Linked DNA regions of Homo sapiens: region 2 is linked to region 1. The links come from fine-mapping of genetic effects on gene expression. A gene starts in region 1. The other region holds a variant in brackets. All regions are shown on one strand. Distances are from middle to middle. Region 1 holds the start of TRAF3 (TNF receptor associated factor 3). Region 2 overlaps TRAF3 (TNF receptor associated factor 3).

What was found. PIP is the estimated chance that this variant, and not a neighbour inherited with it, causes the effect.
Region 2: its variant is the best candidate, but not a certain one, in a credible set for the expression of TRAF3 in whole blood (TOPMed, PIP 0.64).

What each region holds. Positions count from the first base shown.
Region 1 is chr14:102,775,787-102,778,590 of GRCh38, forward strand. It overlaps TRAF3 (TNF receptor associated factor 3), which reads left to right and starts at 1,663. Exons shown (of 12, transcript NM_145725.3): 1 at 1,663-1,889. RefSeq lists an enhancer at 236-475 and silencers at 1,186-1,245, 1,336-1,945, 2,156-2,205, 2,446-2,505.
Region 2 is chr14:102,844,720-102,847,523 of GRCh38, forward strand. The region is part of intron 2 of TRAF3 (TNF receptor associated factor 3); the gene reads left to right. Among named protein-coding and RNA genes, the nearest start is that of TRAF3, 69 kb to the left of the region's middle. The variant G/A (reference allele first, on the strand shown) is at 1,384.

The sequences.
Region 1 (2,804 bases):
ATAAGGCAGGCGTTGGGAGTGGGCCCCAGTCGACAGGGTGCCAGGACTGTGGGCTAAGCAGGGCTGGGGACATGGGAGGCCTCAGTGCCTGGGCTATGGGAAGTGGTTGGGACCCTGAGCCTGAGGTCAGTAACATCCCAACTCCTGACAGGCAAGAAAGGGCACCTGAGGCTCCCAAGGGGAGTCCACCATGGGGGTGGGGGAGACCGCTGGAGTCCATAGGTCCCTGTGAGGGACGGCGAAGGCGGGCCTGTCACCTCTAAAAGAGCTGTGCCTGTGGCGCAGACGGGGGTGCCACTGTGGCCTGGTGAGTGTGGCTGTAGAACAAGCATCTGTTGGGCTAATGGAGCCAGAGACATGGTCCAATGTCTCTGATGTCCAGATAGACTTCCAGCAGCCAGGTCGGACTATCTGGGGTTCTGGAACGTTCCATGGGTGAAGCTGTAGGAGGAGATGCTGGACTTCCTGCCTCCACTCACATGAGTCACTGGAGCAATACAAGAAGGCAGACTGGCCTTGGCTACTCACACTGGTCTCAGCTCTGGGGTAGGGCTCTTTATAAGCCTTCTTGAGAAGTGAAAAATGCAAAGTCCTTTCTGTCCCCTCACCACTGACTTGCAAACTCCAGCGAAGGCCTCACCCCTCAGCTGGCCCAGAGCCTCCCAGAAGCCCTCCCTTCGCTTCCCACCTCGCCAGGCCCAGCCAGGCTGGGTGCTGCCTTGGTGGGCCTAGGTGAATCACTGACACACCACTGATGCCTTTGGGGCAGAAGGCAGAGGCCTCGGGAGAAATGCGCAGGCCCCAGCGGCCTGGTGGAGGGTGCAGGGGGCGCAGGGGCAGCCAGGACCGCCGAGGACGCTGGGGGCACGTGGCAAACTGGCTACCCTGTCCACCCGTGAGCAAGACACCACTCCGGGGGCGTGGGAGGGTCCAAGGGAGGGAGAAAGGAAAGTGCCACCAAACTAATGTGGAGCCCTGCCCTCTGCATGCGAAAAGGGGCTCCACGGCCTGAGTCACCCTCAGCCCCACCTGCGTGTGCGCGAGGGTGCGTGGCCTGGTACGCGTGCGCACGGTGTTGGTGAGCGTGTGTGTGCGTGTCCGCTTGAGGGGAATGTGACCGTCGTGTATGCGTCCGCGACAGTGCGGGGGGCCGCATATCGGACCCGTGCGTGTGCGTAGGGGTCGCGTGTGGCCATGGGCACACGGGCGTGCACGCACGGGGGCTGCGTATGCTATGCTGGCGTGGGGGGTGCGGGCGAGGTGGCCGCGGGGAGGAGCGGCGCCAGCACCTCTCGGCCCCCACGCGGCCTGCGTGGCTTTTTGACCCGGAAAGGCGGGGACGCGGGGACGCGCGGCGGCGGGGGCGCGGCGGGGGCGGCGCAGAGCGAGGAGGCCCGCGGGGCGCGCGGCGGGGACGGGAGGGAGGCGGGGGGCGCCCGGGGCCGTCCCCGCCCCGCGCCGCGGCGCCGCCGTTGCTAAGGCCGGGCGGGCGGCCGCCGGGCGCTAGGGCCCTTAGCAACGGGTCGCGGGCGCGCGCGGGGGGCCGGCGGGCGCGTGGGGCCGGCGGCGCTCGCGGGCTCCTGCCGCTCCCACGCGCGCGGGCGGCGGGGGCGGGGCGGCGGGCGCGCCGGGGATTTCCAGCGCGCGAGAGGAAGTGCCTGCGCGGGGCTGCGTGAGGGAGCGAGGGAGCGAGGGAGCGCGGCGCGGCCGCCGCGTGCGCGAGCCGGGGTTGCAGCCCAGCCGGGACTTTCCAGCCGGCGGCAGCCGCGGCGGCCGCCGGCTCTTCCCCGCCCCCCGCCATGGGGCAGCCCGGGGAGCAGAACGCTGCGGACCGCGGCGGAGGACGCGCCCGGCGCCCCTGAGCCGGCCGAGCGGCGACGGACCGCGAGGTAAGGGGCCGCGGCGGGCGGGCGGGCCTCCGGCGCGCGGCCGGGCGCCTCCATCCCCGTCGCCTCCATCCCGCGCCCTGGGCGGCGGGGCCCGGGGGCCTCGGGGCTGCCCGGCGCGGGCCCGGCGCGGCGCAGGCCCGGCCCGTCCCAGCGGCGACGGCGGGGCGCGGCTTCAGCCTGGCCCCGCGCCCCAGCCGGGCTGCCTCCCGCCTCCGGACGCCTCAACTTCGGCAAACTTTGTCCCGGAGGCCGGGCTCGGGGCCCGAGGGGGCCGGGGCGCCCGCACCTTTTCAGGAAACGGGGCGCGCAGGCCTCGCTACGGCCGTGACCCCCGCTGGCGTTGAGGACCCGGCACCCCGCGGGGCCGCGGGTTTCACGCGGGGGGACGGGCGGCTCAGGGGCTGCGTGGCCGAGCGCGCTGCCCGGGCCGGCCGGGGGGGCCCGGGCGTTATTGGAAAGTTGGTCCTGAGTCATTCCGCCTCAGAGGCGCCTCCGACCGCTTGGCGGGCGGCGCGGGGGTCCGGGTATGGGCAGAGGGCGCGAATCCCCCTCGCGCGGCCGCCGAGGGCCGGCGACTCCCGGGGCACCGGGCGGCTCCTGGCCGCGGGCTCTGCGTCTTCCCCGCGGGCGCCAGGCGGCTCTCGGCGGGCTGGCCGGTTCCACGCCGCCAGCCAGCCCCGTGTGGGGACTTCGGTCTAGTATTTGGACCCGAGGAGATAATTCTGTGTGGAAAATTCTCTCCCTTCGGTTGGAAACAGTAACAAACTGGAAACGGATGAGGTGTTATGGACGTGCTTGGAAATGCAAGAAACCTTCAGATTACGAGCTGTTGACGGGACCAGTTGTATTTCACGTTTTTCGAATTAAGCTCAGAATCAGTTTTCAGAATGACATGTGATGCGTGGTGCGTGGTGT
Region 2 (2,804 bases), 69 kb after region 1:
AAAATTATGATGAAATTCTATAATAAAGAATTCTTAGTTGGCCAGGTGTGGTGGCTCATGCCTGTAATCCCAGCACTTTGGGAGGCTGAGGCGGGAGGGTTGCTTGAGGCCAGGAGTTTGAGACCAGCCTGGGCAACATAGTGAGACTCCCACCTCTAAAAAAAAAAAAAAATGTTGTTTTTGTTTTGTTTTTTTTGAGACGGAGTCTCGCACTGTTGCCCAGACTGGAGTGCAGTGGTGCAATTTTGGCTCACTGCAAGCCCTGCCTCCTGGGTTCACACCATTCTCCTGCCTCAGCCTCCTGAGTAGCTGGGACTACAGGTGGCTGCCAGCACGCCGGCTAATTTTTTGTATTTTTAGTAGAGACAGGGTTTCACTGTGTTAACTAGGATGGACTTAATCTCCTGACCTCGTGATCCACCCACCTCGGCCTCCCAAAGTGCTGGAATTACAGGCGTGAGCCACCATGCCCGGCCCTAAAAATTTTTTGTTTTTTTTTTTGAGATGGAGTCTCACTTTGTTGCCCAGGCTGGAGTACAGTGGTGCAATCTTGGCTCACTGCAAGCTCTGCCTCCCGGGTTCAAGTGGTTCTCCTGCCTCAGCCTCCCGGTTAGTTGGGATTACAGGCGCACGCCACTAGCTCTGGCTAATTTTTTTATTTTTAGTAGAGATGGGGTTTCACCATGTTGGTCAGGCTGGTCTCGAACTCCTGACCTCAGGTGATCTGCCCACCTCAGTCTTCCAAAGTGCTGAGATTACAGGCATGAGCACCGTGCCCAGCCTAAAAATAAAAAAAAAATTTTTTTTTTTTTTCAAGACGGAGTCTCCCTCTGTCACCCAGGCTGGAGTGCAGTGGCGCCATCTCGGCTCACTGCAAGCTCTGCCTCGCAGGTTCATGCCATTCTCCTGCCTCAGCCTCCCGAGTAGCTGGGACTACAGGCACCTGCCACCATGCGTGGCTAATTTTTTTGTATTTTTAGTAGAGACAGGGTTTCACCGTGTTAGCCAGGATGGTCTTGATCTCCTGACCTCGTGATCTGCCCGCCTCGGCCTCCCAAAGTGCTGGGATTACAGGTGTGAGCCACTGCGCCCAGCCAAAAAAAGTTTTGAATTTGCTGGGTGTGGTGGCACATGCTTGTAATCCCAGCTACTGGGGAGGCTGAGGTGGGAGGATCTCTTGAGCCCAGGAGTTTCAAGGCTGTAGTAAGTCATGATCATGCCACTGCACTCTAGCCTGGGTGACAGAGGTCGACCGTGTCTCAAAAAAAAAAAAAAAAAAAAAAAAAAAAATACTATTATACCGCTGTTCAGTTAGCAGGAATTAAAAAGTTTGGCAATTGTTGTTGAAAAAGTTAAGCAACAGAAACTCTCTCATACCCTTCT[G/A]ATGGGAGTGCACATTACAGCTGCTTTGGGAAATAGTTTGGCTTTAGAGTATAAGCTAGCAATCATACTTCTAGGTATGTACACCAGAGAAACACATGCCTAAAGTGATTGAGATAGCTGTACCAGAAAAATCTTAAGTCGTGTTTATATTTGCTCCAAAGCAGAGACCACCCTCGGGGATGAGAATGGATAACTAAATTATGGTATATTTACTGAGTAGAATATTACACAGCAATGAAAATAAACTACAGACACAGCAACAACAAAAAAGGCAAAGAAAAAAGCAAGACAAGAATATATGTAGTATGATTTTGTTATTTTCATCTGCTTCTGGTTTTTATATAAGTTATGTTTGGTAGGGCTGCACACCTAGGTGATAAATCTCTAAAGAAAAGTTTGGAAATGATAAACCATAAAAGTTAAAGCACAGTAGCTCATGCCTGTAATCCCAGCACTTTGGGAGGCTGAGATGGGAGGATCACTTGAGCCCAGGAGTTCCAGACCAGTCTAGGCAACACAGGGAGATCCAGCTTCTTAAAAAAAAAAAAAAAAAAAAAAAAAAAATTTTCCGGACACGGTGGCATCCTCCTGTGGTCCCAGCTACTTGGGAGGCTAAGATGGGAGAATTGCCTGAGTTTGGGAGGTCGAGGCTGCCGTGAGTTGTGGTTGCACCACTGCACTCCAGCCTGGGTGACAGAGCAAGATGCTGCGTCAACAAATCAAACAAAATCATTTTGTTAAAGCTAGTACTTACTTACGTATGTGGTGGAAGGGTTTTGGGGTCAGATAGAGGCACCCAGCCTTTCTGGAGTTCTGGCAATGCTCCATCCCTTGGTGGTAGTTGGACTGGTATTTATGTAATAACTTCATGAAACGGTATACATATGTTTTCTATGCTTTTCTATAAGTAAGTAATACCTCATAGTAAAAGCAGTTTTAAAATAATCAGATTTTATAGTGCATGTTCCATTAAAAAAATGTGGAAAATCCCCAAAGCACATGCATATACAGTAGTTAATCATGTTTTATCTTAAATTTATTCATATTATAGAAATTTACCTTTTGAAATTTCATTTTTATTTATTTGAGATGGAGTCTCGCTCTGTCGCCCAGACTGGAGTGCAGTGGTGTGCATGATCTCAGCTCACTGCAGCCTCCGCCTCCTGGGTTCAAACTATTCTCCTGCCTTAGCCTCCCAAGTAGCTGGGATTACAGGTGTGTGCCACCACGCCCAGCTAATTCTTGTATTTTTGGTAGAGATGGCGTTTTACCATATTGGCCCGGCTGGTCTCGAACTCCTGACCTCAGGCAATCCACCCTCCTCGACCTCCCAAAGTGCTGGGATTACAACATGAGCCACTGCGCCTGGCCTTGAAATTTCATTTTTAAAAGCTCTAAAAATTTTCCAGGTGAGAATTGAC